Regions from separate parts of the Homo sapiens genome. Here region 1 is linked to region 2. Evidence: fine-mapped expression QTL. A gene starts in region 2. The other region holds a variant in brackets. All regions are shown on one strand. Distances are from middle to middle. Region 1 has its middle 17 kb from the start of BRD3. Region 2 holds the start of BRD3OS (BRD3 opposite strand).

Region 1 (4,386 bases), 59 kb before region 2:
CATTTTTTTGTAGAGACAGGGTCTCTCCATGTTGGCCAGGCTGGCCTCAAACTCCTGGACTCAAGCGATCCTCCTGCCTGGGCCTCCCAAAGTGCTGGGGTTACAGACATGAGCCACTTTGCCCCACCATCTGGTTTAAATATACTTTAAATCATTTCTAGATTACTTAAAATAGCTAGTACAATGCCTATAACATCACTTTACTTGTGTGGATTCAATGTAGTACTCAGTGCACAAATTCAAGGTTTGTTCTTTGGAACTTTGTGGATTTGTTTTTTTTTTTAAGAGATGGGGATTTGTGGCCGGGTGCGGTGGCTCATATCTGTAATCCCAGCACTTTGGGAGGCCGAGGCGGGTGGATCACAAGGTCAGGAGATTGAGACCATCCTGGCTAACACGGTGAAACCCCATTTTTACTAAAAATACAAAAAATTAGCCGGGCGTAGTGGTGGGAGCCTGTAGTCCCAGCTACTTATGAGGCTGATGCAGGAGAATGGCGTGAACCCAGGAGGCGGAGCTTGCAGTGAGCCGAGATCGCACCACTGCACTCCAGCCTGGGCGACAGAGCGAGACTCCGTCTCAAAAAAAAAAACCCAAAAAAAACAAAAAAACAAAAAAAAAACAGATGGGGATTTGCTTTAAAGAGATGGTGTGGTGGCATGTGCCTGTAGTCCCAGCTATTTGGGGGGCTGAAGCAGGAAGATTGCTGGAGCCTGGGAGGGTGAGGCTGCAGTGAGCCATAATCACACCACTGCACTCCAAGCTGGGTGACAGAGAAGGACCCTAAAAAAAAGAAAGAAAGAAAGAGAGAGAGAAAGAAAAGCAAGCAAGCCCATGGGGAAGGAGCCAGGACCAGTTGGGCAGGGGTTTCTCCTCTTCTAAAGACAGAGGAGCAATAGCATCATGTTCAAGATAATGGCCTGCATTAGTCTGTTTTCTGCTGTATAACAGCATATCACAAACTGAATAATTTTAAGGAACAGAAATGTATTTGGCTCATGGTTCCAGAGGCTGCGAAGTCCAACAGCACGGCACAGGCACCTGGTAAGGGCCTTCTTGCTGCATTTATACCATGGTGGAAGGGCAAGTCAAGTACACAAGACAGAGAGAAATTGGGGGCCAAACTTATCCTTTTATCAGGAGCCCACTCTTGTGAAAACAAACCCATTCCAGTGATATTGGCATTAATCCATTCAAGAGGGTGGAAACTAATCACCTCCTAGAGGCCCCACCACTTAATACTGTTACAAGTTTCCAGCATGTGAACTTTTAGGGGACACTTTCAAGCTATAGCATGGCCCTCTGGCCCCATTCCAGCAGTATTAGGGGAGGAGAGAAGGATGGATCATTCCCAGAGATACAAACACCAAATCTACTCTTACCCTATTGGCCACTCCCAGCTGCAAGGGAGGCTGGAAAAGGTAGTCTTTATCTGGGCAGGCCTCACATCCAGTAGAAATCGGGGACTCGATGACTGAGAAAGGGGGTGCATGGGCATTTGGGGTCAACCTGAAGTCTCTACCTACCATATATGGTATCTGCAGTCCAAGCTCATCTGCAATTACCCACACGTCTTCTGATTTCCTCACTCATGATTCCTTCTCAGGGTTCAACATCTGTTTATTGAAGTGTCAATTCAAGTGGGCCTCAGAGTGAGGACAGTTTCTGCCAAGGGCTCTCATGGCAGTTTGAGAAAAAGTCTTTATTTTGCCCTTCCTCATGAACAATAGTGTCACTATTTAGAGGATTCTAGGTAGACAGTTATTTTCTCTCTGGCTTCCTTTTCTGCTATGGACAGCCTTGCTGCTATTCTATTGCCTTTTTTTTTTTTTTTTTTTTTTTTTGAGACGGAGCCTCACTCTGTCGCCCAGGCTGGAGTGCAGTGGCACAATCCTGGCTCACTGCAAGCTCTGCCTCCTGGGTTCACACCATTCACCTGCCTCAGCCTCCTGAGTAGCTGGGACTACGGGCACCCACCATCATGCCCAGCTAATTTTTTGTATTTTTAGTAGAGACGGGGTTTCACCATGTTAGCCAGGATGGTCTCAATCTCCTGAACTCGTGATCCCCCGACCTCGGCCTCCCAAAGTGCTGGGATTACAGGCGTGAGCCACCACGCCCGGCTCTATTGCCATTCTTTTGTAGGTGACACATTCTTTTCCGCTGGTTGTTCTCTCTGTGTTTTAACCTCTTTCCACCTCCCCACTGCTAACCTTTCCAGGGCCCCACTGTTTCTGAAGAGCCTTGGATTGGTGGTGTCTCCCAAGGGTGAAACCATCTCCTTCCCTTCTGCATTCTTCCAGACAACTAGCCATCAGAATGAGGGTGAGCCAGCGGCTTTTAAAAATTATCATTATTGGGCCGGGTGTAGCAGCTCACATCTGTAATCCCAGCACTTTGGGAAGCCAAAGCAGGAGGATCACTTGAGCCCAGGAGTTAGAGACCAGCCTGGGCAACATAGTGAGACCCTGTCTCTCAAAAAAAAAAAAAATTAATCAGGCATAGTGGTGGATGCCTGTGGTCCCAGCTACTCAGGAGGCTGAGGTTGGAAGATTGCTTGAGCCTGGGAAGT[C/T]GAGACTGTAGTGAGCCATGGTTGTGCCAGTGCACTTCAGCCTGGGTGACAGAGTGAGACTCTGTCTCTAAAAACAAAATAAATTTTAAAAATCTTACTATGGATGTAACATTCACATAACATAAAATTTGCCATTTTAACCATTTTAAAGTGTATAATTTAATGACTTCCAGCATATTTACAATGCTGAGCAATCATCACCTCTGCCTAATTCCAGCACATTTTCTTTACCCTAAACAGAAACCCAGTACCCATTAACACTCACTCCCATTTGTCTTCTCCCCAGCCCTTGGCAACCTCCCAGGCTCAAGCAATCTTCCCACCTCAGACTCCTGAGTAGCTGGGACCACAGGCATGGACCATCATGCCTGGCTAATTTTTTTTTTTTGATAAACAGCATCTCACTCTGTTGCCCAGGCTGGTCTGTAACTCCTGGGCTCAACTGATCCTCCTGCCTTGACCTCCCAAGATGCTGATATTACAGATGTGAGCCACCATTAATCCACCTTCTGTCTCTGTGGATTTGCCTCTTGTGGACATTTCATATAAATGGGATCATACAAGATGTGGTCTTTTGTTTCTGGCTTCTTTCATGTAGCCCCTAATATCTTCAAGATTCATCCATGTTGTAACATGTATCAGTACTTCATTCCTTTTTATGACTAATACTCTGTTGTATAAGGATATACTACATTTTCTTCATCCATTCATTGGCTGATAGACATTTGTTTTTTCTTGCCTTTTGACTATTATGAATAATGCTGCTATGAACAGTTCTTATTCTTACAAGTTTTTATTTGAGCACCCGTTTTCGGTTCTTTTGGGTGTATACCTAGGAATGGAATTGCTGGGTCATATGGTAATTCCATGTTTAACTTTTTCAGAAACTGCCAAGCTGTTTTCCACAGTGACTGTACCATTTTACATTTCCACTAGCAATACATGAGGGCTCTAATTATTTCGCATCCTTGCCAACATTTATTTTCCTTTTTACAAAAATTACAGCCATCCTGCTGGGTGTTAAGTGGAATCTCACTGTGGCTTTGATTTTGTACATCATTGATGACTCATGGTGTTGAGCATCTTTTCATGTGTTTTTTTGCTGTTGAGTTGTATAAATTCTTTATATATTATGGATACTATGCCATTATCAAATATATGATTTGTTGATGTTTTCTCCTATTCTTTGGGTTGTCTTTTCACTTTCTTGATATGATGCACAAAAGTTTTTAACTTTGATGAAGTTAAATGTATCCATTGTTTCTTTTGTTGCTTGAACTTTTACTTTAGTACCAAATAATCCATTGTCAAATCCAAGGTCTTGTAGATTTACCTCCATGTTTTCTTCCAAGAGTTTTATGGCTTCCACTCTTTTTTTTTATTTTATTTTTTTTGAGATGGAGTCTCGCTCTGTTGCCCAGGCTGGAGTGCAGTGGTGCAATCTGGGCTCACCACAACCTCCACCTCCCAGGTTCAAGCGATTCTCCTACCTCAGCCTCTCAAGTAGCTGAGATTCCAGGCATGTGCCACCACACCTGGCTAATTTTTTTATTTTTAGTAGAGATGGGGTTTCACCATATTGGCCAAGCTGGTCTTGAACTCCTGACCTCATGATCCACCTGCCTCAGCCTCCCAAAGTGCTAGGATTACAGGCGTGAGCCACCACGCCCAGCCTGGCTTTCACTCTTTTATTTTTATTTTTATTTTTTTGAGACAGAGTCTCGCTCTGTCGGCCAGGCTGGAGTGCAGTGGCATGATCTCGGCTCACTGCAAGCTCCGCTTCCCGGGTTCATGCCATTCTCCTGCCTCAGCCT
Region 2 (4,386 bases):
ATGTGCAACTTACAACTCTCGGGTTTCCTGAATGTGTTTTGGATGCACTGGCCAGTGGGCCGCAAATGCTTGGAAGCTACCATGATGCTTCACAGATGATGATCATTTTGGTAACTCAAAATATAAATGCGGGCTTGGTGCGGTGACCCATGCCTGTAATCCCAGCACTCTGGGAGGCTTGAGCCCAGGACTATAAGACCAGACCAGCCTGGGCAACATAGGGAAACCCTGTCTCTATATACAGTAGTTCGCCTGGAGCCACAGCTACCTGGGAGGCTGAGTTTGGGAGGATCACCTGAGCCCAGGAGATAGAGCCTACAGTGAGCTGTGATTGTGCCACTGTATTCCAGCCTGGGTAACAGAGTGAGACCCCGTCTCAAAAAAGCAAAATACAAAATGTAATGCGACAAAGCTCCTGGTGAGATGCTGCTGCTACTCCGCCATTTATGCTAAAAACAAAAAACTAAAACCTAAAAAACTTGAAAAGGTGGTTTGTAATGGGGATGGGAGGGTTACTCTTGGCCTGGTTTAAACCAAGCATCTAGCAGTGCCCGGGCCTATGCTGTCCCTAGCAGCACCTGGAGAATTCAAATGTCACAACAGCTGACCACGGAGGGGACTCTAGAGGGGAAGTGTCCTGTGCACCAGTCACACCGCGGCTGTGCTGAGGGGTTCGGGGGCCAATTCTGCGCTTCTTGGGTTCTTACACCACAGTTTGATCTTCACGTTCATTATTCAAAATCTTCCAGCAAGGATTGGAAATCAACAAGACAACTGAATGAAACTCAGGTCTGTTTTCCTCAAAGTGTGGTCCTGGGTTCAGGTGCTCACATCGGAATTACATAATTGTGCAAAACTTGGACTGCCCTGTGTCCCTAGAGACCTCGAGCTTGTTTTTGTCTCGGACCAAGATGGCCTCATTTCCATACTGTGAGTACCACATGCTTCGGCTCCTGCTCAGGTACGTCCCAGGTGGCACCGACTCCAACTTCTGCTGTTGCTGCTGCCAGATGAGCAAGGAGGTGTCCCTGTACCGGAGGCGGGCGTAGCCTTCAGACAAGGCCTTCTCTGCCAGGGGGACACGGCCACTCATCCCCTCCCCCGTCCCGCTGGACTCCTGGGAACCCTGCTGTTCTGAGACGGCCCACGCGCACTAAATTAACGGACAGCTTTCCCAGCTTTGGGGCTTAAGGATCCCTCGTTTAACTGAATGGTAGAAATTAGGAATTCCGCCCATTTGCAGGCAACGTCCTCAGGAGGGTTGTGTGGTGAGGAAATGAGGCGGCCTCACCATTCTGAAGACACCTGAGACCCATTCAGGGGACCGCACACAGGTCAGAGCGGCGCCCGGCCACAGCTCTTCCGGGTGCAGCTGTGTGGAATTGACAGGGACGAGGCGTCACACCCTGGGGGGTGATTCTGCCACCATGGCCTGGACCACTGAGCTTGAAGAGATGGATCCAGTGCCCTGAGGAAGGGACATGGTGGCCCCAGACGCAAGCTGGAAGGAGCTCCGGTGGCACGCCCCGCACGCATCTGTCCGGGCCAGCTTTCAGGGCAACGGCTGTTCTGACCCACCCTGGGGATCCAGCCCCAGCGTTTGTTCAGGTCTCGTCTCTCCCCAAAGGTGCTGCTGCAAAGGAACGAACGTGCTGTCAGGAGAGGGGAAGTCAAGCGCCCCGGCAGCGGCGGCAGTCTGCAGCGCAGCATCAAGTCTCTGGGGGTCAGCGGCCTAGATCGAGCTACTTACGTCCCGTGGGGCAGCCTGGGAGCTGGGTGGAGAGTGAGACGGGCGCCCAGTGCCAGCTTTTTCAGTCACTGGGAGGTGCTGGGGAGGCTGCTTGTTGGGGCTTCAGGGTCTCCATCTGTGAAACAGGAGCCAGCGGCGCTTGAAAGGGCGCGGGTTCCCGGAGACGCCGCCAGGCGTCAGCCCCGGGACCGGAAGGGGCCCCCAGGGCCGCCTTGCTGCTCCGAGCATCCAGCTCCCGTGAGGCCCCTGGACCCAAACAAAAACGATGTCAGGAGAAAACAAACAGGGAAGCATCGCAACCCACTCCCGAACGCCTTCCCAGCTGCGCAGCGTCAGGGACCTCCCCTCCTGGGATGCCTGCGCTAGGTCAGCCTCAGCTTCCCGGGCCCCCATCGCGCGTCCCCGCCACCTGCGCGCACCCTGGGGTCCCCGTCGCGTGGCCCGCGGCCCCCATCCCCGCGCCCCAGACCCCGCGCGCTCTGGGTCGCCCCATCCTCCAGCCCCCTATCGTCTGCCCGCATCCCCGGGTCCCCCACGTCGCCCGCCCCAGTCACCGCTCGTCGCGGGCCTCGGAGATGCGGGCAGCGGCGCGACGCACTGCGGGGCTCCCAGGGCGGGGCCGGCGGCCGCTGGGCCGTGTCTCCATGGCAGCGCCGCAGGCCTGGCGAGCCGAGCGCAGAGGCTGGGCAGGCGTGTGCGACGAGCCCAAGCCATCGATCGCTCCGCGAGGAGGGGCTGGGCCCGCCCCGAATAGGAACTGGAAGAGGAGGAGGAGGGGCTGGAGGAGGAGGGGCTGGAGGAGGAGGGGCTGGAGGAGGAGGAGGGAGGAGGAGGAGGAGCTGGGAGAGGAGGGGCTGGGAGAGGAGAAAGGGCTGGATGAGGAGGAGGGGCTGGAGGAGGAGGAGGGGCTGGGAGAGGAGGAGCTGAACGAGAAGGAGGAGCAGAAGGAGGAGTGGAGGAGAAGGAGGAGCAGGAGGAGGAGCTGGGGGAGGAGGAGGAGCTGAGAGAGGAGGAGGAGATGGAGGAGGAGGGGCTGGATGGTGAGGGGCTGGGAAAGGAGGAGGGGCTGGGAGCGGAGGTGGGAGGAGGGGCTGGCAGAGGAGAAGGGGCTGAGGAGGTACTGGAAAAGAAAGAGGAGCAGGAGCTGGAGGAAGACGTGGAGGAGGAGCTGGAGGAGGATGAAGAGAAGGAGTGGGACGCCCACAACCCTGTTAGTAAGACACTGCCGGACTGTATGGTCTTATCATCTTGGTTTTCGTATTTCTGCTTGTGTGGTTACTTTTGCCACTGCTGTTACTGCTTTTATTAGTATTCTTACTCTCAGTAATTGATACAATTATTTTTAATTAATTAAATGTCCGGGCTTACTATCTCAAAAATAGGTCTTGAATTTCTCCATCTCATCCAACCAAGCCAGGCCTCTATACTGCTCATTTGGACTCCTCAACAGCCCCATGAAAGCAAGGTCTATTTCCTTTTCTCACTCCACCTCCAATCATACTCCAATAGCACTCTTTTAGTATCTACCCTTTTCCCCTAATTTTATGGTTTTCTCCAATGCCAATTAAGAAAACTAGCATAATGGAACCTGGTGTGGTGGCTCACCTCTGAGTCCCACCTACTTGGGAGGCTGAGGCAGGAGGATCCCTTGAGCCAGGAGTTCGAGGCTGCAGTGAGCCATAATCATGCCACTGCACTTCAGCTGGGACGAAACAGCAAAACCCCATCTCTAAAAAAAAAGAAAATAAGCATAACAGACATCCAAGGAAGATGCTTAGTGTGAGCACTAAGCCCACAGCTGTGGAACGCACATTCTTTTTTTTTTTTTTTTTGAAAGGGAATCTCACTCTGTCACCCAGGGTGGAGTGTGGTGGCACGATCTCAGCTCACTGCAACCTCCGCCCCCCAGGTTCAAGCGATTCTCCTGCCTCAGCCTCCTGAGTAGCTGGGACTACAGGCGCCGGCAACCACGCCCAGCTAATTTTTGTATTTTTAGTAGAGACAGGGTTTCACCATATTGGCCAGGCTGGTCTCGAACTCCTGACCTTGTGATCCGCCTGCCTCGCACTTTCTTCACAAGTACCTACACAGGACGTTTAGCAAAACTGATCACATGCTGGACCATAAATCAGTTTCAACAAATTTGAAAACGTTTAAATCTTACATGATCTCCCAGTCTTCCGACCTGGGAAAAGACAGCAACCGAAGTTATACTGCTTTCAAGAGACACAAGAACAGGCCTGTATTCAAAGACCCATTTAACACTTTTACCTCTATCTGGCTGGGTGCGGTTTTCACGCCTGTAATCCCAGCACTTTGGGAGGCCTAGGCGGTCACATCACTTGAGGTCAGGAGTTCGAGACCAGCCTAGCCAACATGATGAAACCCTGTCTCTACCAAAAATATAAAAAATTAGCCCAGTGTGGTGGCAGGCGCCTGTAATCCCAGCTACTCAGGAGGCTGAGGCAGGAGAATCTCTTGAACCCAGGAGGCGGAGGTTGCAGTGAGCTGAGATTGCACCATTGCACTCCAGCTTGGGTGACAGAGTGAGACCCCATCTCAAAAAAAAAAAAAAAAAATTGCCTCTAAGCTAATATAATTTGTTCTATGCCTTGAACTAAATAATTTGAATATTT

The links. PIP is the estimated chance that this variant, and not a neighbour inherited with it, causes the effect.
Region 1: its variant is the best candidate, but not a certain one, in a credible set for the expression of BRD3OS in tibial nerve (GTEx, PIP 0.66).

Annotation. Positions count from the first base shown.
Region 1 is chr9:134,082,522-134,086,907 of GRCh38, reverse strand. No RefSeq gene overlaps it. Among named protein-coding and RNA genes, the nearest start is that of BRD3, 17 kb to the right of the region's middle. The variant C/T (reference allele first, on the strand shown) is at 2,573.
Region 2 is chr9:134,023,455-134,027,840 of GRCh38, reverse strand. BRD3OS (BRD3 opposite strand) reads right to left here and starts at 2,360. Exons shown (of 3, transcript NM_001355256.2): 1 at 2,305-2,360; 2 at 1,751-1,996; 3 at 1-1,633. The coding sequence starts at 1,093. The coding sequence ends at 839. RefSeq lists silencers at 2,067-2,486, 2,797-2,926.